3 separate regions of the Homo sapiens genome follow, and regions 1 and 2 are each linked to region 3. The links come from fine-mapping of genetic effects on gene expression. A gene starts in region 3. Each other region holds a variant in brackets. All regions are shown on one strand. Distances are between the middles of the regions. Region 1 has its middle 8.6 kb from the start of MIR12117. Region 2 has its middle 58 kb from the start of APTX. Region 3 holds the start of SMU1 (SMU1 DNA replication regulator and spliceosomal factor).

Evidence for each region.
Region 1: its variant is fine-mapped to the expression of SMU1 in stomach (GTEx, PIP 0.91).
Region 2: its variant is fine-mapped to the expression of SMU1 in transverse colon (GTEx, PIP 0.97). The same link has a PIP of 0.9 or more in esophagus muscle.

Annotation. Positions count from the first base shown.
Region 1 is chr9:33,095,311-33,104,899 of GRCh38, forward strand. It overlaps a transcript of B4GALT1 not described here. Among named protein-coding and RNA genes, the nearest start is that of MIR12117, 8.6 kb to the right of the region's middle. The variant AG/A (reference allele first, on the strand shown) is at 6,722.
Region 2 is chr9:32,938,561-32,948,508 of GRCh38, forward strand. It overlaps the pseudogene ASS1P12. Among named protein-coding and RNA genes, the nearest start is that of APTX, 58 kb to the right of the region's middle. The variant A/G (reference allele first, on the strand shown) is at 4,084.
Region 3 is chr9:33,070,468-33,080,415 of GRCh38, forward strand. It overlaps SMU1 (SMU1 DNA replication regulator and spliceosomal factor), which reads right to left and starts at 6,207. Exons shown (of 12, transcript NM_018225.3): 1 at 6,116-6,207; 2 at 3,129-3,339; 3 at 1,273-1,425. The coding sequence starts at 6,141. RefSeq lists enhancers at 6,069-6,218, 6,389-6,588.

The DNA of each region.
Region 1 (9,589 bases), 25 kb after region 3:
AAAGAAAGAACTTAATAAAATTATAGATTCAGACTGAAATATACCAATAGTTACAGTGAATATAAATGGAAAAGAAATTCTCCAGTTAAAATACAAGAATTAGTAGACAGGTTTAAAAAACAAACAACATGCTATTTACCAGAGACAGAGGTAAGGCATAAGGATACAGTAAGGCATAAGGATACAGGTAAGGCATAAGGATATGGAAAAAAGGATACAGTAAAAGGACTGAGAAATATAAAATTGGAAGACTCTAAAAGAAAGCTGATATAGCTGTATTTTATATATATATGTGTGTATATATACGTGTATATATATGTATATATATAGTGTGTGTATATATATATATAAAATAAAAGGTTGGTTTCCTCCTTCCTTTTAAAGTATATAATTCAATTTTTTTTCAGTATGTTCAAAATATTATGCAGCCATCACCACTATATAATTCCTAGATAAAATTTACTTTAAGGCAAAAATTCTTTTTTTTTTTTTTTTTTTGAGACCCAGTCTCACTCTGTTGCCTAGGCTGGAGTGCAGTGTCACGATCTCAGCTCACTGCAACCTCTGCCTCCCAGGTTCAAGCAATTCCCCTGCCTCAGCCTCCCGAGTACCTGGGATTACAGGCGTGTACCACCATTGCCTGGCTAATTTTTGTAGTTTTAGTAGAGATGGGGTTTCCCCATGTTGGCCAGGCTAGTCTCAAACTCCTGACCTCAGGCAATCCGCCCACCTCTGCCTCCCAAAGGGCTGGCATTACAGCTGAGAGCCACTGCGCCCGGCCAAAAAGTCTTAAACCCAGAAGATACAACAATCCTAAATTGCTAAATCTCTAATAACATAGTCTCAAAGCACAAGACGTAAGAACTGATAGAACTACAAAGACAAATAGAAAAAGCTACAAGCCTAGTGGGAAATTTTCAACAAGCAAAGAGTATAGAAGATTTGATTTCAAAATTCATTAAGGTAGGGCCGGGCATGGTGGCTGATGCCTGTAATCTCAGCACTTTGGGAGGCTGAGACGGGCAGATCATGAGGTCAGGAATTCCAGACCATCCTGGCTAACACAGTGAAATGCCGTCTCTACTAAAAATACAAAAAATTAGCTGGGCGTGGTGGCAGGTGCCTGTAGTCCCAGCTACTCGGGAGGCTGAGGCAGGAGAATGGCATGAACCCGGGAGGCGGAGCTTGCAGTCAGCCGAGATTGCGCCACTGCACTCCAGCCTGGGAAACAGAGTGAGACTCCATCTCAAAAAAAAAAAAAAAAAAAAAAAAAAAAAAAAAATTCATTAACGAAATAGAAGATTTGAACAATACAATTAACAACTTTGACCTAAGAGACATACACAGAACACTGTCCCCTAAAATTCTGACTACTGTAGTCCCCCTCTTATCCACAGTCTCCTTTTCCATGGTTTCATTAACCCATGGTCAACTGCAATCTGAAAATAGGTAAGCATAGTACAATAAGATCTTTTGAGAGAGACATTTTTAGTAGAGACAGAGTTTCACCATGTTGGCCAGGGTGGTCTAGAACTCCTGACCTCAAGTGATCTGCTCACCTTGGCCTCCCAAAGTGCTGGGATTACAGGCCTGAGCTACCATTGCTGGCCTTTCTGTTGTTGTTTTTAGACAGGGTCTTCTCATTCTATCACCCGGGCTGGAGTGCAGTGGTGTGATCATGGCTCATTGCAGCCTCAAACTCCTGGCTCAAATGATCCTCCTGCCTCGGCCTCCCAAAGTGCTGGGATTATAGAAATGAGCCAGTGTGCTTGGCCACAAAACTTTTTCCTTTGAACATAATTATGAGATTGAAATAAAAAGGAAAAAGACTTTTTCAGCGATATGAAAATCTAAGGAGGATATTATGAGTAAGGAAAATTACCTACTAATTTTGGTCATGAACATAGATGTAAAAATCCTAAATAGTAGATTAGCCAACCAAATCTTGCTATAGATAAAAAGGTCACTACATAATGAGTAAATTGTTTCTATTCTAGGAATGCAAGTTTGGCTTAACACTTGAAAACCAATCCAAGAAATCTACCCCGTTAACAGAATAAGGGAGAAAAATCACGTGATCATTTTAATAGATGCCGAAAAGCATTTAATAAAATTCAACATCCATTCATGATTAAACCAAAACAATACAAAACAAAAAACTTAACTCTTACCAAACAAGGAATAGAAGGGAATTTTCTTAGTATAATGAAAGTCTACATAAAACTATATCAAATATCATTTTTTTTTTTTGAGATGGAGTTTCACTCTTGTTGCCCAGTCTGGAGTGCAATGGTATGATCTTGGCTCACCACAACCTCTGCCTCCTGGGTTCAAGTGATTCTCCTGCCTCAGCCTCCCGAGTAGCTGGGATTACAGGCATGCACCACCACATCTGGCTGATTTTTTTGTATTTTTAGTAGAGACGGGTTTTCTCCATGTTGGTCAGGCTAGCCTCGAACTCCCGACCTCAGGTGATCCACCTGCCTCGGCCTCCCAAAGTGCTGGGATTACAGGCGTGAGCCACCGTGCCTGGCCTTCAACTATCATTCTTAACTATATCAAATACCCTTCTTAATGGTGAAACTTTAGTTTTCCTTTAGAGATCTAGACTTAGAATAAATGAAAATACCTCTCTACTACCGCTATTCAACATTGTAATGAAAGTCCTAGACAGCACAGGAAGGTACGAAATAAAAGCTTTGAGATTGGAAAGGAAGAAACATCTTTTTTTTTTTTTTTTTTTGAGACGGAGTCTTGCTCTGTTGCCCAGGCTGGAGTGCAGTGGTGCGATCTCGGCCCGCCACAAATTCCGCCTCCCGGGTTCAAGTGATCGTCCTGCTTCAGCCTCCCAAGTAGCTGGGACTACAGGCGCGTGCCACCATCCGTGGCTAATTTTTGTATTTTTAGTAGAGATGGGGTTTCGCCATGTTGCCCAGACTGGTCTCAAACTCCTGAGCTCAAGCGATCTATTCACCTTGGCCTCCCAAAGTGCTGGGATTACAGGCGTGAGCCACCGCACCCGGCCGGAAGAAACATTTAAAGATGACAGGAAATCTTCGTAGAAGATACTTAGAAAATCCAAATGAATGTGGAGAAAATTATTAGAATTAGTTATCAAGGTTACTGAATACAAAGTCAATATACGAAAATTGTGTTTACATATATGAGCAACAAAAGAAAAATATGTTTCAAAAGGCTATCATTTATTTAAAAATAGTGAAAATAGACTGGGCGCAATGGCTTACGGCTATAATCCCAGCACTTTGGGAAGCTAAGGCAGGTGGATCACTTGAGCCCAGGAGTTCGAGACCAGCCTGAGCAACATGGTGAAAGCCTGTCTCCACAGAAAATAGAAAAAAATAGCCAGGCATGGTTGCATGTGCCTGTAGTTCCAGGTACTCAGGAGGCTGAAGTGGGAGAATCACTTGGGCCTGGGAGGCGGAGGTTGCGGTGAGCCGAGATCATGCCACTGTACTCCCCGCTGGACGACAGAGCAAGACTCTGTCTCAAAAAATAAAAAAGAGTAAAAATATATACAATACCTGGGAAAAAATAATAAAAATGTATAAGATCCCTGTGAAGAAATGCAAGAAGACCTAAACCAAAAGAGGATTCTATCTTGTTTATACGTTGAAGGTTTGATGTTTTAAAGATATCAGGTCTCTTATAGTGATCCATAAACTTACCAGCATTTCAATCAATATCTCAAAAAGTGGGGTGATTATGGTGGGGTTTTTTGGTGGCTCTTGAGAGGCTGATTGTAAAGTTCTTATGGAAATGCAAGAGCCAAGACACTCAATAAAAAAAGAACAAGTTTCAGTAAAAAGGTACAGTATGGTAGTGGGACAACGATAGATAAATAAAGCCATGAACTAGAATAGAGTCCAGGGACAGACCCTCACAGGAAAGGACAGTTGCTTTATGACCAAGGTGGCATTGAAGTACAGTGGAGAAAGGACAACAGCTTTTCAATAAACAGTACTGGGATAATTGTGGATGTCCACAAAAAAGCAATTTGCCTACAGTTCCCCAGTGACTATGTGGTGAAGCCAAGTCTTTATTATTTTTTTATTTGTCTTGAGATAGAGTCCACGCCTGGCTAATTTTTGTATTTTTAGGACAGACAGGGTTTCAACAAGTTGGCCACGCTGGTCTCGAACTCCTGACCTCAGGTGATCTGCCTGCCTCGGCCTCCCAAAATGCTGGAATTACAGGCATGAGCCATCATGCCCGGCCTGAAGCCAAGTCTTTAAACCCAAACGTATCTGGCTCTAAAGTCCATACTCTTTACATTTGGCCAACCACCATGTCACGTCCCAAAGCTGTGGTGAGCAACAGGCCTCCCAAGCTATGGAGGTGCTCTGTGACCCAGTAAATGTTGTGAATACCTGCAGAGGAGATAATTACTGCCTTCCAGGTTGGCAGGGTCTCCTTGGCCCATAGCCCTAAAGCTCCTACTGGGTTCCCCTCCTCTCTGGTAAAGTACAGCTGGCACCTGACCACCAAGTCCCTTTGAAAAAGAGTGGCCCTCTGGTTGACTCTGGCAAGGGGGACTTCAGCAGGGGGCTGGCCTTACAGCCAAGGTACTCAGGACTGAATACCCCCAGGGCGCTGTGAGAGGCTGATGCTCTGAGGTTCCCTTGGGGTCAGCCTCAGGCCAGAATTTGGTCACCAGAACTAGGTCACCAGAGACTCTTGGGACAAGTTTTGTGTTTTACTTTTTAAGCTGAACTTTGTGTTTTTGTGGCTTTGGTTCAGGGGTAGAACCCAGCTGAAGAAGGAAAAGCAGTAGAGCCTTCCAGGAAAACACGCAGAGGAGGCCTAGTTCCCTTTGGCCTCTTGGCCATGCCCTGGGGGATCCCTCGGAACTACCAGGGACTGCCCTTCCTCCATTCCTCCCTTCCCTAGTTTCCTGGATTGACAAAGTAGACCTTTGTTTCTGGCTTTGAGACCTTGAGGGAGGATAAGAGTCCTGTCTTTAGCACCCTAGCAGTAACTATAATCAGGCTGAAGAGTTTTCTTAGAAATACAAAATGGCAGCTTGGAAAGGCCCTCGTAGCCTCCTGACCCCGTTTCCAGATGGGGAGTAGAGAGATGATCTTGTTACAGGAAAAGGATCCCAATCTAGACCCCAAGAAAGGGTTCTTGGATCTTGTGCAAGAAAGAACTTGGGGCAAGTCCATGGAGTAAAACGAAAGCAAGTTTATTAAGAAAGCAGAAGAATAAAAGAATGGCTACTCCACTGGCAGAACAGCGGAGTGGGCTGCTTGACTGAGTATACTTATAGTTATTTCTTGATTATATGCTAAACAAGAGGTGAATTATTCGTGAGTTTTCTGGGAAAGGGGTGGGGATTTCCCCCAGAACTGATGGTTCCTCCCCTTTTTAGACCGTATAGGGTAACTTCCAGACATTGCCATGGCATTTTTAAACTGTCGTGGCACTGATGGGAATGGGAGTGTCTTTTAGCATGCGAATGCATTATAATTAGCATATAGTGAGTGGTAAGGACACCAGAGGTCACTTTCATCACCATCTTGGTTTTGGTGGGTTTTGGTTGGCTTCTTTACAGCATCCTGTTTTATCAGCAGGGTCTTTGTGACCTGTATCTTTTTTTTTTTTTTTTTGAGACGGAGTTTCACTCTTGTTGCCCAGGCTGGAGTGCAATGGTGTGATCTCGGCTCACTGCAACCTCCACCTCCCAGGTTCAAGCGATTCTCCTGTCTCAGCCTCCCGAGTAGCTGGTATTACAGGCGCCTACCACCATGCCTAATTTTTGTATTTTTAGTAGAGATGGCATTTCGCCATGTTGGCCAGACCGGTCTCAAACTCCTAACCTCCAGTGATCCACCCGCCTCGGCCTCCCAGAGTGCTGGGATTACAAGTGTGAGCCACCACGCCCGGTCTGTGACCTGTATCCTATGCCAACCTTCAGTCTCATCCTGTGACTAAGAATGCCTAACCTTCTGGGAATGCAGCCCAGTAGGTTTCAGCCTTATTTCACCCAGCCCCAGTTCAAGATGGAGTTGCTCTGGTTCAAACGCCTTTGACATTCTGGCCTTGGTCACCCAGGGGTCAACCCTAGACTCCCATTACAGCACTTCCTCAGTTCCCTCAACTAATTGCACTCCCTCAAATTGAGGCATTCCCAGCAGTATGCTAGGATGTGTACTGACATCAGGGTTGGAGAGGGGCCAGGGAAAGGCCTGGCAGGCCTTGTCTCCCACAAAGAAAACCCTTGGAACAGTCTCCCGGAGGTTGTGGGCAGTGAACCTGCACGACAGGGTAGACCCAAGACAGGAAGAGTGCCCATGGATCCTGGGAGCCAGCAGGGCCAAGATCTGCCAGCCAAATTCACAGAGGCCACCAAGCCCAGCGCCCTTGAGACACACACAGCATCTGAGTCAGACACAGAGCATTCCAAGCTGGTAGGAATGGCCCAAGCTGACATATGAGATGTCATGCCCAACAGACAAATTGTTCATGGGGAAGATTTCTCCTGTCCTCAGCATGCAATTCTTCTCTCCCCATTCCATAGTCTCATTGTCACTAGGTCAGTGTCTATCCAGAGCAAACCACATGGAACACAAATCATTGAGGCTTGGAGTTGATGAAGTTAAACCCAACAGCCTGCTTTTTAGCAGTCTTGATTCAGCTTGTCATCAAAACAAACCACAGCCCCTGGCTTTGCTTAGGAAAATGCCTTTGGCTGAGAACTTAC[AG/A]GGGGGTCTTGGAATAGTGTGGCAATTGCTCTCCCTTGGGAAGAGGGTGTACAGTCGGGGAGGAAAGGTGCCCAGAAGAGAAAGGGAGAACTAAGCAGGCATCTAGGCCTTATTGGGGAATCCTAGGTCTCCACCTGGACTTCTGGGTCCCCGCAGTCTTCAGACAGACACTGTGCTGAGCCCTCCTGAGCACCAGGTGTTGGCCCAGGCAGGGCAGGTCCAGGAGGATTAAGAAGCTGTGTTGTCCATGAAGCAGGAACTGGTTGTTGCTGCCCAGAGTGATGCCTCAGAGGCAGAAAACCCCATGTCTTCAGGTCCACTTGCATCCCCAGCCCTCAGGAGTCTCCCTTCTTCCCTCTTCCCCACGCCTCAGGCCTCCTTGCATCCTCATGGATTGTTTCAGTGTTAACCATTCCTGTACATCTCCCAGACCGTGGTGACACCAATGCAATGCCCCTGGTATACGGAACTGTCGCTGTCAAGTTTACTAGGTTCCTAAGTCCTCTAAAACAGTAAAGGGAAAACAAAACAAAACACAAACAATCTCATCCCAAAGGTGCTCTTGGCTCCAGCCCTGGATCCAGGCTGTACTTCTCTCGGCAGTGCTGCTGAGGCCACAGCTTCCCTGGCTGGGGCAAGGAACCTCACAGCCTCCATCGCCCTGCTCCCACACTGTGTGGATGAGGAGCTGGGTCATGGTCCAGTGGCCAGAGCCCTAGCCTGGGACTCAGGAGGTCTGTGTCAGACCCAAACTCTGTGTGACCTTGTGCAAGTCATGTGAGCTCCCTGAGCCTAAGTTTCCCATGCTGGAATTATTGTAAGGAGCAACACACGGTACGTGGGAAAGCGCCGAGTGTGCTCATGGAGGGTGAACACGGGTGAGGGGTTCACGAGTCCACCTGCACCCTCCCTGCCCCACAGGCCCGCCTTGGAGGAAGGTGGGAACTAAGAGCTGGGCCATGGAGCTGGCCTTTCTCCTGTGCTTCTGTCATCAGGGGAGACCAAAGTCACTGTGGCCACCGCAACAGGACACAGGGAGCACTCCAAAGGCCCCGGCGACGTTTGATTGTCCAGCATTCCACATCTGTCCCAGAAATGAGTTTCCAACAGCTCCAGGCTCAGGTCTGTGTCAAAATCCAGATGTCAGGGCCTCCCTCTGCAACAGGGCTCCTAGATTCTGGAGTCAAAGATCTACTAGAAAAGGGGTCCCCCTTGTCGAGCTCTGATCAGGCACAAGAGGCGAATCTCGCCCCTCCAGAGCCAAGACAGTGTTCCTCTCCTACCGCATTCTTTCCATTCTTTAGTGTCTTGAGGCTTGACAGTTCAATTGCCCTCACAAAAGAGTGGCAAGAAATGTTGTAACTATTTTTCTAAACCTGAGAGAATTGCCAGAAGCCCCCCCAGCCTGTGTTGAGCTCCCATTCTGCCTTCTCAGACCTTCCTACAGCCATGCCATTTCCCACCACCTGTGAACAGAGTTCAGGCCTCCACCATTCCCCCAGGGGAGGAACCCTGCATCACCCTTCCAAGACTGGGGGACTTATGGGGAATGCAACTCCTCCCAGAAGACAACCCAGCATGTCCTCTCAACAGGGCCAACATTCTGAACAAAGGCCTCAGCCCAGGGTGGGGCGGGGACGCTTAGAACAGGGGCCTGGCCCCAGGCTATGTAGAGAAGGAAAATCATCTTCAATTTTTTGCTCATGCATCTGCTCCCAGAAACAATTACAGAGTAATTTCTGCACTAAATTATTCATACATTTCCCTGCCTCATATGGAAAGACCATTCTGTAGTTTCCTTTGTTTCCTTAGGCCTCTTTCCAATCGATAAATATAGATCCACTTCATCATTCTCAATGGTTGCATAGTACTTGATTGTTTGGATGTACTTCATTTTACTTAGCACAGTCCCCCGTTGACGGTGGCTTCTCATTTTCCAGGGCTACAAACAGCACTAGGGCGAACACTGACGCACATACATCTTGGGGTGTGACTTTGTTTTCTTAGGATGAATTCCTAGAAGTTGACTTGTGAGGTCAAAAGATAGGTCCACTTTTAGGATTTATTTCTCTATAGTCCACTCCCAGAATGGGTGTGGTAGTACCCTCGCCAGTACCAAGTCCTGTCTCTCCCAAGTGTCCTGCCCACTCTCCAATCCAGGGTCTAACATGGAGTTCAGGCTCTGCTTCCTGACACCAGGGGACCCTCCTCTCCTTCAAGACATAACCTATCTAGCTGACTCCATTTTCACCCCCAGGGATAATCCAGCCCCCAGCTTGTCATTTCTTCCTCTAAAAAGCCTCCAGCTCAGCCCCTAGTTTCCACCAACAGTCAGTGGGAACCAAGTGGGCACCCTGGGAGTAAGAGGCTCCTTGCTCCCAGTCCTGAGATCTTGACTGAGTCCAGGCTTCAACTTCTCCACCTAAGCCCCACCTGGCAAAAGGACGGTTGTACCTATGTCATAGCTTTGCCACAGCCCAGACTCCTTAGGGGAGGACAGCATTTGTCTCGAGAACAGGTAGCCGCTGAAAAGCCAGTCACTGGGGTCAAGGTCCCCAGCTGGATTCAGCAACCAGGCTGAGTCCTTATGACTGGCCAATCCTCCTCAGGTGGCACAGCCCACACAGCCAGCACGTCTCACGCTCAAATCTCCAGGAAGATGCTGGGACTAACCACCATGCGCTGCCACCTCCAGAGCAGAACAGACCAGGCGAAGCCTTCACCACAGGAGTCTTCTTATTTTTTCATACTGTGGTAAAATACACATAACAGAAAATGCATCATTTTACCTTTTTTTTTTTTTTTGAGACAGTCTCACTCTGTTGCCCAGGCTGGAGTGCAGTGACGTGCTAAGTAAATGAACTGCA
Region 2 (9,948 bases), 130 kb before region 3:
TAATTGATAAATTAAAAATAATCAAAGGAAAATCCTAATTTTTTAAAATAGAATCTGACAAGTTGCATAGAACATTCATCTGGAAGAGTAACTATTTGAGCTAATAAAATGTTTTCTGTTTGTTTTGTTTGTTTTGAGATAGAGTCTTGCTGTGTTGCCAGGCTGGAGTTCAGTGGTGCAATCTCGGCTCACTGCAACCTCCGACTCCCGGGTTCAAGCGATTCTCCTGCCTCTGCCTCCCAAGTAGCTGGGACTATAGGCCATGCCCAGCTAATTTTTGTATTTTTAGTAGAAGCGGTGTTTCACTATGTTGGCCAGGCTGGTCTTGAACTCCTGACCTTGTGATCCACCCGCCTCAGCCTCCCAAAGTGCTGGGATTACAGATGTAAGCCACCGCACCCGGCTGAGCTAATAAAATGTTTAAGAAAAAGAACACTGTTCAGATAGGCCGTGACCATAGAGAAAGTCAAGGTAGGTCACAGTAGAATAGTCCAAAGAGCCCTGGGAGGTGGAACATAAGGAGGGATGCTCCTATTTCTCATCATTATGAGTCACATGAACTTCCTTATTATCTGCATCCAGGACAAATTCAGCCAGAATCTGGGGCAACAAATTGTTCACAAGACCATATGGGACTACTGAGCACCATGTAACTCATTCATGTGCCACATAATTCTGAGATTCACCCACTCACTACGTCAGAGAAGAGCTTCATCCTTCCTGAAGAAACCAATCAGGCAGTCAAAGAAGATGAATAAAGGAGGAAATAAAGAAAGAGGTGAATCCATATATCCTGGTGTCAGTGATGTTTTTACATCTTCAGAGAACCTAAAGAGAATTTTTAATTCCAGCAATAGAGAAAAACAGAAGATTTTGCATAATGCAGGTCCAAAAAGAAGTGTAAAAAAAAAAAAAGTTTGAACTACAAGTAGCAATCCTATTAATTCTAGAATTTCCACACAATGCAAGACCTAGAAGGCATGATACTGGGCACCAAAGAAATGGAAAGGTGATGAGTAGGAAAGGTACAGAAGAAGCTATAGTTGAGAAGATAGAGAATGAAGCATGCACCTGCTTGCCTCATCTTCATGGGGGTACTGTATTAGCTTGGCTAGGTTAAACGGAAGTAGGAAAGACAAAAGTAGGGAGGAAGAGGAGAAGAAAAGGAAGGGAGAATAAAGAATTTCTACAAGGCAGGCGTGTTGGCTCATGCCTGTACTCCCAGCTACTCAGAGGCTGAGGCAGGAAGATTGAGCCTAGGAGTTCAAGACAAGTCTGGGCAACATAGTGAGATCCTATACCTAAAGTTAAAAAAAATAATTTCTAGAAAATTATAGTAATAAAAATTGTGATATGAGTTGAGTAATTGCTCAATGGAACCAGAACAGGGAGTCCATAACAGACTCATATGTATTGGAATTTAACTTACCATAAACATGGCATTTCAAAGGAATGAGAAATGAAGCCTAGTTTAATAAATAAGTTGTAGCAATTAGGTAAAAATTGAAAAAAATAAAGATGCATCCCTACCTCACACTATACCATCCAAAAAAAAAATGCCAGATATGATAAAGACTTCAAGTCAAAAGACAAAAGTATAAAATTACCAGAAAAAAATGTAAGAACATATGGACAGGAAAGGCCTATTTAAGCAAAACACAAACATCCAGAAACAATGAAGAAAAAAAGGAAAGAATGCCTAATTTAGCTACATCAGGGTCCCCAACCCCCAGACTGCGGGTCTGTGGCCTATCAGGAACTGGGTCTCACAGAAAGAGGTGAGGCAATGGAGCATTACTGCCTGATGTCAGATAAGCAGCCACATTAGATTCTCATGAGAGTGTGAACCCTATTGTGAACTGTGCATGCGAGGGATCTAGGTTGTGTGCTCCTCATGAGAACCTAATATCTGATGATCTGAGGTGGAACAGTTTTATTCTGAAACCATCCATACCCCACCAACCATCACCACCAGTCCATGGAAAAACTGTCTTCCACAAAACTGGTTCCTGGTAGGAATAAAAAGGTTGGGGACCACAGAGTTGCATAATTGTTAAACTTTGTATAATGAGAGAAATCTTCAAATGAAGTTAAAAGATTGAAACATCTAAATCTGTAACATATTTGCAACATAAGTAATAAATAAGTCAAAAAGAAAAAGAGAGGCAACTCGATTTTTTTTCTTGTGCAAAGGAACATTGGCAGAGACTTTTCAACATCTCCAATTTTCATTTTGTCCTCCTTCCATAATAATAAAAATTTTAATTGGACATGTAGTTGCCCAAAATAAAGTGCATATTTCACAGCCTCCCATAAAGCTTAGTCACATGAGGCCATGTGGAGTCACATGGGCTTTCTGCCCACAGAAAAGTAAGGAGAGAGTCATGCGGAATTTCCAAGAACCTTCTTAACAGATAATCTGTGTGAGCCCTTGACACCCTTCATCTGTTCATTCATCCTGCTACCCAGAGGGCAGATGCTTCTGTCTTGGACCTTGAGGGCTGGAAGAAGAATGCAGTAGGATACAAGGCTGCAGAGGGGGCAACAGTAGACCAGGGAGACCAGGTATGTCAAATTGAGCGATTCGGACCAGACCCTGTAATCAGAAGTCTCACTCAATCCTGTTACACCCAATGTCTCCATTTTTTTTTTTTTTTTTTTTTTGAGACCGAGTTTCGCTCTTGTCACCCAGGCTGGAGTGCAGTGGCACAATCTCAGCTCACTGCAACCTCTGCCTCCCAGGTTCAAGAGATTCTCCTGCCTCGGCCTCCCAAGTAGCTGGGATTACAGATGCCTACAACCACACCCAGCTAATTTTTGTATTTTTAGCAGAGACAAGGCTGGGCATGGTGGATGTGGTTCATGCCTGTAATCCCAGCACTTTGGGAGGCCAAGGCAGGTGAATCACCTGAGATCAGGAGTTTGAGACCAGCCTGGCCAACATGGTGAAACCCTGTCTCTACCAATGTCCCCTTTCTATTGAAAGATTCTGTAGCTTGCCCTTTACTATCCTGAAGTGAAAATCATGGATCACGTAACCTATCTGCACTCCTAATTTTTAATAATACAATATCTTTAATATAAAGGAAAAAAAGCAAAGTAATTAAATAAAATACTATGCTCAGACACACCCATACCTACTAGAAAAGAAATCCTACTAATCTCCAAACGGCTGTCCCCATCCCCATAAACACTTCTGGAAGCAATAAAGAGCCAAGGAAAGCTTTTCAAGCAGAAAATAACTTCATATCTTAGCCCAAGTTCCCTAGAAAACAGAGCTTAAGGGTAGGATTAAGGTGCTAAAATTTTATTGGGAAGTAAAGCCTCAGAGCAGTGAAGTGAAGGAAGAATTGAAAACAAATGCAACTGCTTACTGCTTTATGACAAGCCATAAAGAGGCAAAGCCCATTTTAGCTTTACTCAAAAGCTAAAAAGTACACTGCTTGGCCACACAAGATGTCCCTGGACAGGGTATGTGGGAAAACCGTGCCCCGGACAAGTCCATGGAAGGGACTCCTTTCTCCTGCTCGTCAAAGTTGCCCCAGAGGATTTAACCCTGACTTCTTTACCCAGAAGTAGGGGAGAAGCCAAGAGTATGGTTGGTCGGCCTCAAGTGGAATTGCAGGGGCTTGCATAGAACAATAATCCAAGGGTCTGTGAAATTGATCAAGCTGAGAGAATCTACAGAGGTAGGGAAGATGTGTCTGATATACATGGTTAGATTTGCGTTTTCAAAAAAATAATCCCTAGAAGCTGTAGAGTGTGGATTTGAAGGGGGTAGAAGGTGGCAACAGCAGGGAGACAAAAAGACCAGATAAGAAGCTGGGCCAGGCATGGTGGCTCATGTGGGTAATCCCAGCACTTTGGGAGGCCACAGTGGGTGGATCACCTGAGGTCAGAAGTTCGAGACCAGCCTGGCCAACATGGTGAAACCCCTGTCTCTACTAAAAATACAAAAATTAGCTGGGCATGGTGACACACATCTGTAATCCCAGCTACTTGGGAGGCTGAGGCAGGAGAATCACTTGAACTGGGGAGGCAGATGTTGCAGTGAGCTGAGATCACACCACTGCACTCCAGCCT[A/G]GGTGACAGAGTGACTCTGTCTCAAATAATAATATTAATTAATTAATAATTCAGCAATCACTGCAGAAACTCAACCCTGTCAACTGAGCCAAATTTCTGAAAAGAAAATAAATTGTTACTTATTTTTAAATAAAAAAGAACCTTATTTACTGTTGGGAGAAAAAGCTGAGTGTCCGGAGAGAAGCTGAGGCAGGGCTTGCATGTCTGCTAGACTTGCTTGGCTCCTTGCTTCTAGCACTCCCATTATCTCAAGCCGCCATATGTTTTTCATTCACTTGATACACTGTTTCCTTTCAACCCCCACATCCTCACCACCTGTTTCTTTGTTTGAGCACCACTAAATAGTGTGGGCTCCCAAAGCTCTGGGCCTTCACAGGCTCCACACTCAGGATGGCCCCCTGGTCCGACTTTCTCTCTCAAACTGTCTTTTTCTCATTCCTTTGACTCAGCAGGACTTCGTTGCCCCCACGACCTGGTGTTGGGTCTGATCACCCCAACATTTACAGATAACAAGTAAAAAATAATCATAAGTAAACAGACAACATGCTGCTTAGAAATGGAAGAATCATGCTTAGAAATGGAAGAATTGTTCTTAGAAACACTGGAAAGGATATCATCAGGGTTTTCTAGCGCAGTCAGTAAAGTTCGGATCAGAAAACTTCTCCTACTCCACATGCCCTTATCACACTCCCACTCAGTGTGTAAATGATTGCCTGAAGTGTGGACGGTGTGTGCCTGTATATCAAAGATATGAAATAAACATCAGTAGGATCCTTATGATGCACTCAGAGAGCAGGGGTAGTGTCTTTAGCTAGAGGAGTAGCTGTAACTTTGTCTCCGTTTGTTATGTTTGAAGGCATGTAGTTTGCTCTCTGATATACCAGAATCCAATTAACTCAAATGGTTTATAGACCACACAAATACGAGGCAGTACCTGCTGTCCAATGCCTACCACGCTGCAGGTACTCAACAAATGTTAACAAAATCCATTTGTTTATTTATGCAACCAACATTTATTGAATGCCAAATATGTGCCAAACACTGTTCTAGACATTGGAGATAGAGCAAACACATTTTTAAAATTTCTCTTTTTTGTATTATAAAAGTATTAAAGATTGTGCACAAAATGAAGCAATACAGGGATATATTAAAAAAAAAAAAAACTTAATCAGCCCCGTCCATACCCCACATCTTCCAAACCTACCCCTCTGAGGTAACCAATTACTTTTGTTTTTGTTTTTTGAGACAGGCTCTGGCTGTACTGCCCAGGCTAAAGTGGAGTGGCATGAACATGGCTCACTGCAGCCTTGATCGCCTGGGTTCAAGTGATCCTCCCACTTCAACCTCCTGAGTAAGCTGGGGCTATAGGCACATGCCATCACACTCACCTAGTTTTTTAATTTTTGTAGAGACTGGGTCTATGTTGCCCAGGCTGGACTTGAACTCCTGGCCTCAAGAGTTCCTCTTGCCTCCGCCTCTCAAAGTGCTGGGATTACAAGCATAAACCATCATGCCTGGCCCAATGTATTTTTTTCTAATATTTTTAATTGACAAAAATTATATAATTTATTGTGTACAATATATTGTTTTGAAATATGTATACACTGTGGGGTAGCTAAATTGAGCTTATTAACGTATTACTTCACATACCTATTTTTTTTGAGGTAAGAACACTTAAAATCTAATCTTTTAGCAATTTTCAAGAACACAATGCATTGATATTAACTGTATTCACCATACCGTACAATAGATCTCCTGAATTTATTCCTCCTAACTGAAATTTTGTATCCTTTGACCAACATCTCCCCAACGCCCAATTCTCAGCCTGATAACCACTATTCCACTCTCTGCTTCTATGAGTTCAACTTCTTTAGAATTCACGTACAAACGAGATTATGCAGTATTTGTCTCTCTGTATCTGACTTATTTCACTTAATATAATGTCCTCTGGATTCATCCAGGGTGTCACAAATGGCAGGATTTCCTTCCTTCTTGAAGCTGGATAGTATTCATATATAGCATTTACATTTTATTAGGTATTATAAGTAATCCAGAGATGATTTAAAGTATATGGGAGGGGGCTGGGCATGATGTCTCACACCTGTAATCACTGCATTTTGGGAGGCCGAGACGGGAGGATCACTTGGGACTAGGAGTTCAAGACCAGCCTGGCCAACATGGTGAAGCCCCGTCTTTATATAAAAAAATAAAAGTATATGGGAGGATGTGTGTAGGTTATATGCAAATACTGTTATCATTTTATATCAGGGACTTGAGCATCAGCAGATTTGGGTATCCGCAGGGTGTTCTGGAATTAATCCCCTACAGATCCCAAAAGATAACTGTGCTTGGTCACTTGTTTGTCTTTTTTTGACAAATGTCTATTCAAATCCTTTGACCATTTTTTAATTGCATTATTTGTTTTCTTACAATTGAGTTGTTTCAGTTCCTTATTATTTTAGATATTAATCCCTTATCAGATGTATGGTTTGCAAATATTTTCTCCCATTCTGTAGGTTGTCTCTTAACTGTGTAGATTATTTCCTTGGCTGTGCAGAAGCTTTTTAGTTTGATACAATCCCATTTGTCTATTATTACTTTTGTTGCCTGTGCTTTTGGGTTTATATTTAAAAATTCAGGCCTGGGTACCGTGGCTCATGCCTCTAATCCTAACACTTCAGGAGGCCAAGGCAGGAGGATCTCTTGAGGCCAGGAGTTTGAGACCATCCTGGGCAACATAGCAAGGCCTCGTCTTTAAAAAAAATTAGCTGGGTATAGTGGTGCGTGCCTGTATTCCTTATTACTTGGGAAACTAAGGCAGGAGGATCCCTTGAGCCCAGGAGTATGAGGCTGCAGTACAGCTATGCTCCTGCCACTGCACTCCAGCCTGGGCAACAGAGCAAGACCCTGTCTCTGAAAATAAATAAATAAATAAATTTTTAAAAATCTTTAAATAGATTTTATGTTTCCAAGTCATTAAAGAACATGAGATGTCTTTCCATTTGTTCAGATAACATTTATAATTTTAATTGAGCTTTTATAACTTTAAATAGGTCTTATATCTTATTAATTTTACTGTCAAGGTGAAACTATTTTGATTTCTGAAATTTGCTTTAAAGTAGTACTACAGTAGGTAAGGTGGAGAGGCAGGATGAAACAAGAAGGGCAGAATATTGACGATTGTTGAAGCTGGTTATGGGTACTATTCTCTGGGTTTTTGTGGATGGTTTGGTATTTTGAAATTATACTCCCTGCTCTGTCGCCTGCCACCGCTCCCTGAGCCCGAGTGGTTCACCGTACCATGAAGACAGATGGCAGATGCCAGGAACTCGAGCCTCCAATCCCAGATGCTATGTCCAGCAAAGGCTCAGTGGTTCTGGCCTACAGTGGCAGCCCGGACACCTCTTGCATCCTCGTGTGGCTGAAGGAACAAGGCTATGACATCATTGCCTACCTGGCCAACACTGGCCAGAAGGAAGACTTCGAGGAAGCCTGGAAGAAGGCACTGAAGCTTGGGACCAAAAAGGTGTTCATTGAGGATGCCAGCAGGGAGTTTGTGGAGGAGTTCATCTGGCCGGCCATCCAGTCCAGCGCACTGTATGAGAACCGCTACCTCCTGGGCACCTCTCTGGCCAGGCCCGGCATCGCCGGCAAACAAGTGGAAATCGCCAAGCAGGAGGAGGCCAAGTATGTGTTCCACGGCACCACGGGAAAAGGAAATGATCAGGTCCGGTTTGAGCTCACCTGCTATTTGCTGGCCCCCCAGATAAAGGTCACCGCTCCCTGGAGGATGCCCGAGTTCTACAACCGGTTCAAGGGCTGCAATGACCTGATGAAATAGGCAAAGCAACATCGGGTTCCCATTCCAGTCACTCCCCAGAGCCCGTGAAGCATAGACGAGAACCTCATGCACATCAGCTATGAGGCTGGAATCCTGGAACCCCAAGAACCAAGTGCCTCCAGGTCTCTACATGAAGACCCAGGACCCAGCCAAAGCCCTCAACACCCCTGACATTCTCGAGATCAAGTTCAAAAAAGGGGTCCCCGTGAAGGTGACCAACGTCAAGGATGGCACCACCCACCAGACCTCCTTGGAGCTTTTCGTGTACCTGAATGAAGTTGCAGGCAAGCACGGCGTGGGCCGTATTGACATCGTGGAGAACCGCTTCATTGGAATGAAGTCCTGAGGTATCTGCGAGGCCCCAGCAGGGACCATCCTTCACCACACTCATTTAGACATCAAGGCCTTCACCATGTACCGAGAAGTGCGCAAAATCAAACAAGGCCTGAGCTTGAAATTTGCTGAGCTGGTGTATACCGGTTTCTGGCATAGCCCTGAGTGTGAATTTGTCCGCCACTGTAATGCCAAGTCCCAGGAATGAGTGGAAGGGAAAGTGCAGGTGTCTGTCCTCAAGGGCCAGGTGTATATCCTCGGTCGGGAGTCCCCACTGTCTCTCTACAACGAGGAGCTGGTGAGCATGAACGTGCAGGGGGATTATGAGCCGATTGATGCCACGGGTTCATCAACGTCGATTCCCTCAGGCTGAAGGAATGTCATCTCCAGAGCAAGGTCACTGCCAAACAGACCCCTGTACAATGAGGAGCTGGGGCTTCCCCAATTTGCAGATTTTTTCCCCCAAGTACAGGTGCTAATTGTGATAATTTGTCATTGTGACTTGTTTTCTCCAGCTGGCAGCATAGTGGGTCTGCCAGGCCCCAGCTTTGTTCCCTGGTCGCCCTGAACCCTGCAAACGTCGTCATCGAAGGGAAGGGTGGGGGCAGCTGCGGTGGGGAGCTATAAAATGACAATTAAAAGATTTTTTTAAATTACACTCCTAAGTATTTTAAGCTTGTATAAAACTGTAGAAAATAAAATAGTTTTCTAATTTCCTTTCAAAGTACTTACTGCTAATACGGAGAGAAGTTGGTGCTTTTTGTATATTTATCTTGCATCTGCCCACTTTTCCAAAATGACCTACAATTCAAATAGTTTATTACTAAAGTCCCTCGAGTTTTCTAGGCAAACAATGAAGTCACATAGACAAACATAAATAGTTTTATTTCGTCTTCTTCAAAGTTTATGGCAATTATTTTCTTACCTTACTTTGACAATGTAACATAATAATAGCACATGGACATCCTTTTCTAATTTCTGATTTCAATGAAATGATTTCAGAGTTTTGCTATTTAGAACAATGTTTGCTATTGGGTTTAGAGATACAGTCCTTATCCTAGATAAGTAGTTTCCTTGTATTGTTACTTAGACTTGTTTTTAATAGAAAAGTCATCACACCCTATTGGCTTAGAATTTTTATTAGGAATGGCTATTAAATTTTATAAAATGTTCCTCCAGTGTATATTGACAGGATCATATGGTTTTTCCTTTATAGTATTATCATAATTCATTACTAACGGTAATAGATGTCTTGATAGTGAACCAGCCTGTACACCTGAAATATATAGAATAGGGCATAATTAAAATACTCTATAGCAGTATATTATTATTATATAACTTGATTTTTATTAATACTTTATTTAGAATTTTTGCATCTGTATTAATAAGTGTAAGGTTACATAAATAACCTAAGTGTTTTTTCTACTCTCGACTCCCGCAGAGTCACTCAACATTTGTGACACCGGATGTGTGGGTTTTTCCCCACACACCAAGACAGTTCTGCAGATGATTCTCCAGTGGACACCAGCTAGATGGCTGCCAATTCAATTTAACTCTGACACTATCCACCTGGAGATTGCATCCCACAGGTGAGGGCTCAGTCCCACAAGACTGCCCCCACCACTGCAGATGCTGGTTGCAAGCACAGATTGTGGCCTGTGCTTCTGACCAACCAGCTCTAAGTCACGGTT
Region 3 (9,948 bases):
GTTTGGAGATTCCTCAAAAAATTAAACATGGAGGTACCATATGATCCAGCAATCCCACTGCTAGGTACACACCCAAAAGGAAATCAGTATATCAAAGAGATATCTGCACTCCCATGTTTATTACAGCAGTGTTCACAATAGGCAAGATTTGGAAGCAACGATAAGTGACCATTAACAGATAAATAAAGAAAATGAGGTACATGTACACAATGGTGTACTAGCTGGACATATAAAAGAATGAAATCCTGTCATTTGCAACAACATGCATGTAACTAGAGCTCATTATGGTAAGCGAAATAAGCCAGGCACAGAAAGACAGACTTTGCATGTTCTCATTTATTTGCAGGAACTAAAAATTAAAACATGGAGATAGAGAGTAGAAGGATGGTTGTCAGAGGCTGGGAAGGGTGGAGGTGGCGGGGGTAAGAAGGAAAGTGGGGATGGTTAATAGATACAAAAAATATAAAGAATAAATAAGAAATAGTATTTGATAGCACAACAGGGTGACTATAGCCAATAATAATTATACATTTTAAAATAACTGAAAGAATTGAATTGTTTGTAACACAAAGGATACATGCTTGAGGTGATGGATACTCCATTTACCCTCATTATGCACTGCATGCCTATATCAAAATATCTCATGTACCCCATAAATATATACACCTACTATGTACCCATAAAAAATTTTTTTTAATCCTTTTTCCTCCTATTTTGACAAACCTCTAGTAAAAGGCTGGGGGGGTGGGCAGGAAGAATGAAACCATACAGATAATAAGGTTTAGGAAGAATGAAACTATACAGATAATAACGTTTTGGAAGAATAAAAGACTATCATCATGCTCTACTGGTAAGCATAATCCGCGAAGAAACAAAAGCTTCTAGGGACTAAAAAGGCTAGAAGGAAACTACAATTGTTAGGGGCAAGACACACAAATGATCAGTGAACATACCAGCAGTCAGGCAGCACTTCGGGGAGGGCTAATGTGGAAATGACATCAGAATAAAATGTTCTGCTTTTTTTACTAACCAACACGCAATCCTCTAAACTGAGGTGTATAGAAGACTCAAATAATCAGAAAACTGAACAAAATTATTCTCTTTAACATACGCAAATTTCAGCCAACATATATAAACAGAGAAGCATCATTCTCAAAAATTAAATCAAAATCACAAAGAGTATACAATAAAATGGTAAAAAAAAAAAAAAAAGATCATGTTATTTCATTTCCAAAGTTAACAAAAAGTTCCTTTTCATTACCACAGTCATACCTCACGAGGATCAAAGTAAGACCTGGCCAAAAGGTTCTCCAGATGAATATATCGCTCTGGCTGTGTTTGTTTTAACATGATCATGGGATCAGTCTGTCTCAAAAGTGACCTGGCAGCACCCAATTCACGGAGCTCTATCAATTCCAGAACAACCTGGACAATTAAAAAAAAACAAAAAAAACCCCAGATGTTTCAACACACCGTCTTATTAATATTTTTCGGTAAAATATCTAACACAGATATGGCCTGTCAAAGGATTTCCAATACCAGGAAGTGCCCCTTTCCATTTTCACTAGCAATTTCAGGTGGACTTGGTGGGCTTGGTGGCTCATGCCTATAATCCTAACACTGTGGGAGGCCAAGATGGGCGGATCACTTGAGGTCAGCAGTTCGAAACCAGCCTGGCCAACGTGGTGAAACAGACTCTCTACTAAAAATACAAAAAAAATTAGCTGGGTGTGGTGGTATATGCCTGTAATTCCAGCTACTTGGGAGGCTGAGGCAGGAGAATTGCTTGAACCCGAGAGGCGGAGAGTGCAGTGAGCCAAGCTCATGCTACTGTACTCTGGCCTGGGCGACAGAGCGAGATCTGTCTCAATAAATAAATAAATAATAATTTCAATCCTTCAAACTCTATCCTTCATTTTTATCTACCAATCTCCCCTCCTCTCAGGCTTCTTGCTCAGAATGTAGATGCCAAAGAAAGCTAAAGATGGGAATATACCCATGGGCTCCAGAGAAACCTTTCTCCAGTTACCAAAATTTTCTTTGGGAATTATTGAACTCATACGGATTGTAAAGAAACAAACTGCCCAGACACGGCAGCTCACACCTGTAATCCCAGCATTTGGGAGGCTGAGGCAGGTGGATCACTTGAGGTCAGGAGTTGGAGACCAGCCTGGCCAATGTGGTGAAACCCCGTCTCTACTAAACACAAAACTTAGCTGGGCGTGGTGATGCACGCCTGTAATCCCAGCTACTCGGGAGGCTGAGGCAGGAGAATCGCTTGAACCCCGGAGATGGAGGTTGCAGTGAGCAGAGATCGCACCACTGCACTCCAGCCTGGGTAACACAGTGAGACTCTGTCTCAAAAAAAAAACAAAAAAAAAAACCCGTAAACAAAAACCAAAAACCAATTTCACTACTTTTACTTCAAATTACAATCTTATTTCCAGAAAGTCTACTCTGCTGTTTTATAATCACAAATTTGTCTGATCTTTGTCCTAGGTTCTTGGCTTGGAGCTTCTTGGAATTTGACCAGTGATAGGGGTATCTTTGTTACTCCTGGGCCCCTTGAATCACACCTGGGTTTGTGCAAAGGAAATGGCTCAGGATAGGTAGGAGCTAGTTATCAGAAAGACTAACTATGTGATTAGAAAGTTGAGGCTCTCTCGTGCCTGTAATCCCAGCCCTTTGGAAAGTCAAGGCTGGCGAACTGCTTGAGCCCAGGAGTTTGAGACCACCCTGGGTATTATGGTGAGATCCTGTCTCTACAGAAAAATGCAAAAATTAGGCAGGCGTGGTGGTGCGTGCCTGTGTTCCTAGCTACTCAGGAGGCTGAGGCAGGAGGAAGGATTGATCCTGGAAATGGAGGATGCAGCAAGCTGTGATCTTGCCACTGCACTCCAGAGTGGGTAACAGAACAAGATCCAGTCTCAAAAAAAGGAAAGAATTTTAATTTGGGAAATCCTGGATTTTCCAAGAAGGGAGAAAAAATACAATGTCAAGCCTTGCCATTGTTGTATGGGCTGATGCAGCCCTACCGTGCTTGAAGGAATGCTCACTGACGCTTTTTAGTTGGGGAGCTGGCCCACAACGAACCAACCCATGGGGATCAGCATCACCACCACTCTTACCTGTTCATAGAGGTCAATGAGGGTTTTGTCTGGCAATTTCAGAGACTGTATAGCCTGCAACACAGTATCCCAATGGCCACTGTTAATGTCAGCCACAAAACTCTCAATGCTGTCCACAGTATTCAGAGACACAGTAGTCTCCTCCTGCAAGGTGGCTAACGCCCGATGTAAACTGTTCTCCTTCAAGTACTGCATAATAAGGCGGATCACACTGAAAGAAAACAAATCGTTCAGCTCAGGGATTCTCACTCACCAGAGGTCAAAAATAAAGCCTATCAAGCTCCTACTCAATCATCTTCCTTTCACTACTATTTCTTTATCATGTGAGTAAAATTTTCCAAAATCACAGAATCTAAATTATAAGGGGACCCCCCCTAACCATAGAGACAGAACTGGGGTTCAAGGAAAGGAAATCATTTGCCTAATGTCTCAGTCAGCTAGAAAGGGAGTTGGTGTCAAGGTGACTATCTTATTTCCTAATCCAGAGCCTAGTTTCCTATTCATTCTTGTAATTATATTGTAGCACACTTCACTGAAATACTTTAAATGACTAGACTAGTTATTTATACAAAATAATCTAAATGAGGTTGGGCATGCTGGCTCATGACTGTAATCTCAGTAATTTGGGAGGCTGAGGCAGGAGGATTGGCTGGAAACCAGGAGGTTTGAGACCAGATCAGGCAGCTGTGAGACCCCATCTCTACAAATTTTTTTTTAAATTAGCCAAACATGGTGGCATGTGCCTGTAGTCCCAGCTACTTGGGATGTTGATGTGGGAGGATCCCTTGAGCCCATGAGTTCAAGACCAGCATGGGCAACATAAGAAGACCCCTTCTCTACACACACACACACACAAAAAAAAAAATTAGCTAGGCATGATAGTGTGTGCTTGTGGTCCCAGCTACCTGGGAAGCTGGGGTGGGAGGATTGCTTGTATCCATAAGGTTGAGGCTGCAGTGAGCCGTGATCATGCCACTGCACTCTAGCCTGGGAAAGAGAGCAAGACCTTGTCTCAAAAAAATAAATAAAATAAAACCTATGAGGTAAGTTTACTTTTATCCCCAATTTACAGATGAGGATTTGATCAGATAATAGAGATAATAAGTGGAAAAATCAGGACTCAAACTGGCAGTGTGGCTCTAGAGCATGTATTCCTGAGGAGAAAGCAAACATCCTCTTTTTTTTTTTTTTTTTTGAGAAATGGTCACTTGCATCGCTCAGGCTGGACAGAATAGTGGCGTGATTGTGGCTGACTGCAGCCTGGGCCTCCTGGGATCAGGTGATCCTCTCACCTCAGCCTCCCGAGTAGCTGAGACCACAGGCATGCACCACCACACTGGCTAATTGTTGTATTTTTTGTAGAGACGTGGTTTTGCCATGTTGACCATGCTGGTCTCAAACTTCTGGGCTCAAGTGATCCATCCACCTCAGCTTCCCAAAGTGTTGAGATGACAGGTGTGAGCCACCGCACCTGGCCCCTCTTCTTAAAAACAACTATAGGCCGGCCGCGGTGGCTCACGCCTGTAATCTCACCACTTTGGAAGGCCGAGGCGGGCAGATCACAAGGTCAGGAGATCGAGACCATCCTGGCTAACACGGTGAAACCCCGTCTCTACTAAAAATACAAAAAAATTAGCCGGGCATGGTGGTGGGCGCCTGTAGTCCCAGCTACTCGGGAGGCTGAGGCAGGAGAATGGCGTGAACGTGGGAGGCGGTGCTTGCAGTGAGCGGAGATCGCGCCACTGCATTCCAGCCTGGGTGACAGAGTGAGACTCCGTCTCAAAAAAAAAAAAGGGAACTGATTGCTGCTACCTGCAGTAGTCTTTTTCTCTCATGGCCCCTTTATGAGGTATGCAGGTATCCAGACTTAGACCCCTGTTATTCTGCTATGATACTATCTTCCTTAGCACATGTCCGTTGACTTCCATTTTACACTCCCAAAATAAGTCATCTCTCTCCTCAAACAGCTCACATTTGACATAGCCAAAATCAAATTCCCTACCTTCAAACAGAAATGAATACATAAAGAGCTAGAAGCTTTGAAGATAGTCTGGGATTTGAATCAAAGTTATGTGACCTTGGACAAGTAGGTTAACATCATTTCAGTATTTGCTGAATGCATAAACCTCCCTTCCTCCTATGAAAAGTCTCCAAAAAAGGTCCTCTCCCTCCCTTACACTCAGACACAATTTTTATGTCTGTTAATTTAATTATTATTAAGTGTTGGCAAGGACAGGTGGAGGATGGAGTTCTGGAAAAGCACACTAAGGTCTTCTTTAGTCACTAATTCTCATCCCCTATTCCTTGAAAATTTTTCTTTCTAGCCCAGTCTCCAGTCTGTCTCTCCCCAGACAACCCAAAATTCCGTGCCAGATCGGGCCTGATAGTTGTTCATTCATTCCAAAAGCTAGTTGTTCATTCATTCCAAAAGCAATTAACTCTTCCTCTAAGGTATGCTAGACACTGAGACCACAAGGAAAAGGAGCTCCTAGGCACCGACAAAGGCTAGTTTGGGGTGAGGTTATCAAACAGTGACAATACTGAGTGATAAACGCTAGGCAGAGAAAAGCAAAGGGGCCGTATAAGCAGAGACAACGAATCACATTGCATAAGCTGGACAGGGAGAGAAGCAAGGCTTAAAGAGACCTATCCCCTTGCGCAGATAATTAGACTGGAGTCCAGAGTGGATCCTTAATTTGGTCAATCACAGCGCGCCAGCAGTCGGCCAAGGACAGAACTTAGGTCTGCAAGGTGTGTTTTCCCCACCCGTGCCACCTCCCTCGAGGTTTTGGGCTTCACGTCTGAGAGCTGCTACTTTCCTGTGGGCCCACCTCCGAGGTAGCGAGATCCAAGATGCTTCTTTGGGGGCAAGGAAATGGCCCTCCACTCCCTGGCCTCTCGGATGCCTTCTCCCGAGTACCCTCCGCCCCACACCCTTAACCTCCAGGCCCCCGGCAAGGCGCGAACATCCCCACCGCAGGACTCACTCCGAAGATTCGATTTCGATCGACATAGCCGTATCTCTCCGGGAGCAGGCCCCAGCTCTCCCTCAAGGCCAGTCGCGCAACACACCAACGACACCTCCGGCGGACACCTAACGTCACTTCCGCTTGGGTCGGCGTCTGGCTCCCGCTCTGGAGATAGAGTGAACGAAGAGTAGGGGCGAGGTTCGCGTAGGGGCGGAGCCCTCAGGGGCTGTCAGAGGGCGGAGTTTATGCCCCTGCCCCAGAGAAATACGCATCAGGAGGAAGACTGTTTAAAAGCAGGCCGGAGCCGGGTGCGGTGGCTCACGCTTGTAATCCCAACACTTTGGAAGGCCGAGGCGGGCGATCACCTGAGGTCGTGAGTTCGAGACCAGCCTGACCAACATGGAGAAACCCCCGTCTCTACTAAAAATACAAAATTAGCCGGGCGTAGTGGCGCATGCCTGTAATCCCTACTCGGGAGCCTGAGGCAGGAGAATCGCTTGAACCCAGGAGGCGGAGGTTGCGGTGAGCCGAGATCGCGCCATTGCACCCCAGCATGGAAAACAAGAGCGCAACTCCGTCTCAAAAAAAAAAAAAAAAAAAAAAGAAAGATAGAAAAGAAAAAGAAAAAAAGCACCGGGCGCCATACAGCTCACAAATGTACTGAAAAAGAAAAGCGCTGGGGCGGAGCGCGGTGGCTCGCGCCTGTACTCCCAGCGCGCGAGTTCGAGACCAGCCTGGGCAACATGGTGAAGCCCCGTCTCTACTAAAAATACAAAAAATTAGCCGGGCGTGGTGGCGGGGGCGCCTGTAATCTCAGCTACTCGGGAGTCTGTGGCAGGAGAATCGTTTCACCTCTGGAGGTGGATGCGGTGAGCCGAGATCACACCATTGCACTCCAGCCTGGGCAAGGAGAGCAAAATTCCGTCTCAAAAGAAGAAAAGAAAAGTAGTGGTGATAAGATTGTAGTAAGAAAAGCAAAGAAAAGAAAGAAGAAAAGAAAGAAAAGAAAAGAAAGAAAAGAAAGAGCACTGGTTTGGAAAGATTGCTTTTTTTTTGAGACGGAATCTCGCACTGTCGCCCGGGCTGAAGAGCACAATGGCGCGATCTCGGCTCACTGCAAACTCTGCCTCCCGGGTTCAGGAGATTCTCTTGCCTCAGCCTCCGGAGTAGCTGGGATTACAGGTTTCTTGCCATCACGCCAGGCTAATTTTTTGTATTTTTAGTAGAGATGGGATTTCACTATGTTGGTCAGGCTGTTCTCGAACTCCTGACCTCGTGATCCGCCCGCCTCGGTCTCCCAAAGTGCTGGGATTACAGGCGTGAGTCACTGCGCCCAGCCAATGTTGCTTTCGTTTGATGTAATTAGTTGATTAGATTTAAGATGAGGCTGAATATGCAATACCTGATGGGATATTAATACATTCAAAACCAACATAACACTAGCCAAAATTTATAGGAAGAGTTAATTGAGGATTTTGGTTGGTTGGTTGGTTTTGCGTTTTTTTGAATCAAGGACTCGCTTTGTTGCCCATGCTGGAGTGCAGTGTCTCGATCGTGGCACACTGCAGCCTCGACCCCTCCAGCTCAAGCAATCCTCCCACCTCAGCCACCCAAAGTGCTGGGATTACTGGCATGAGCCACCACGCCCTGTCACGGGACTTTAGGTCAAACACATTATTACATTTGTAGTGACAAATGAAATGTAGAGATATCAGTGAACTTCATACATAAAACCTATTTTTAAATATTTTATTGCTGTTGTATATAAATTGTAAAAATTATTTGCAGCACAGTAATAATAAATCTGGCCAGGCGTGGTGGCTCACGCCTGTAATCTCAGCACTTTGGGAGGCTGAGGCGGGTGGATCACCTGAGTTCAGGAGTTGGAGACCAGCCTGGCCAACATGGTGAAACCCCGTCTCTACTAAAAATAAGAAAATTTGCCAGGCAGATAGGTGTGCATCTGTAATCCCAGCTACTCGGGAGACTGAGGCAGGAGAATCCCTTGAACCCGGGAGGCAGAGGTTGCAGTGAGGAGAGATCGAACCACTGCACTCCACCCTGGGTGACCGAGTGACCAAAAAATAATAAATAAATAAATAAATAAAATAAATCTGTGTTCCGAAATTACATATTGAAATGATGTATTTGTAGATTTCCTGATGGCTTTCAGTCTTATCTGATTCTGTGCCTAAAGGTCTGCCATACAACTTGTCCATAACCTCTTAAATACTGCTTCTTTTGTCAAATCATCCTCTATTTCCTATCAATTCTTGAAGGACATGGTCTCCAAGGTTTCAAATGTTTTAGAGTCTCCATGCTTGCCTTGACATGTAGTGAGATATCAACATGGGTTATATGGTTTATGAGATACTCCTTCACTATTCTATCCCATAACAGCACAAAATTATTATAACTTCTTCCTTGAAAAGAAGACCCAGCTCATCGCAACAATAGCATATGTCCTCATTTTCTCTACCTAGTACTTGTCATGTTACTCTTAAATTCAGGTTACTTCTCTATTTTGTTTATACAAATAAATCTTCTCTATGATTACTTAACACCAGGTTTTATTCTAATATCCACCACACCTCTGCTTTCATTTTGAATGGAATGGCTTCTCTTCTTATGACTCCTATTACATCCAAGCTTGTTCATTATTTATAGATGTGAGCATCTTATTGCTTCATTATGTCTTTTGTAGTAACACCCTAGGATTTTGATATTGAACTACATATTACTCTATTTTATAACAAATTAATTTATTTTTATTTTTCCTATATATTTAGCATTATATTGATTTTTTCATTATCTGCGTAAGTAGATTTTTCTTTCTTTTTTAAGACAGAGTCTCACTCTGTTGCCTAGGCTGGAGTGCAGTGGCACCATCTCAGCTCACTGCAACCTCTGCCTCCTGGGTTCCAGTGATTCTTCTGCCTCAGCTTCCCAAGTAGCTGTGATTACAGGCACGCACCACCATGCCCAGCAAATTTTTGTATTTTTAGTAGAGACGGGTTTCGCCATGTTGGCCAGGCTGGTCTCGAACACCTGACCTCAAGTGATCCGCCCGCCTTGGCCTCCCAATGTGTAAGTAGATTATATTACTTATGAATTTCAGAACACTAAAAGGGATGTTACAAGAGATTTGGAGGTCCTTGAGCCTAATAGTATTGAGAACATGTTAAAGAGATGCCTATTAGTCATTGCTCCAAAATAATAACTCCAATCCCTTAATACTTTTCTTACTCTCCTTTTTTAACCTTGGAAAGATCTTTTAGAAAATAATATATTTTGTGATAAAGAAACATTTACATAAGTTCAACAATTCTTTTGGTTTCACTTCAGTTTCCTTTTATTCAGTCAATTACAGGTACAATTAAATTGATTAATTTTTCTCTAAAAAATAGCACATATTGATTGGCCAGGTGTGGTGGCTCACACCTATAATCCCTGTACTTTGGGAAGCCAAGGTGGGAAAATTGCTTGAGACCAGGAGCTCAAGACAAGGCTGGACAACATAGCAAGAGACCCCTTCTTCACAGAAAAATTAGCCTGGCATGGTGGCACACGCCCGTAGTTCCAGCAACTTGGGAGGCTGAGGCGGGAGGATTGGCTTGAGCCCAGGAGTTTGAGGCTGCAGTGAGCCATGATCGCACCACTGCGCTCCAGCCTGGGAGACAAAGTGAGACCCTGTCTCTAAAGAAAATAATAATAATAATAAAATTAAAATAGGCTAGGCATGGTGGCTCACGCCTGTAATCCCAGCACTTTGGGAGGCCAAGGTGGGTGGATCATCTGAGGTCAGGAGTTCGAGACCAGCCTGGCCAACATAGTGAAACCCCCCCATCTCT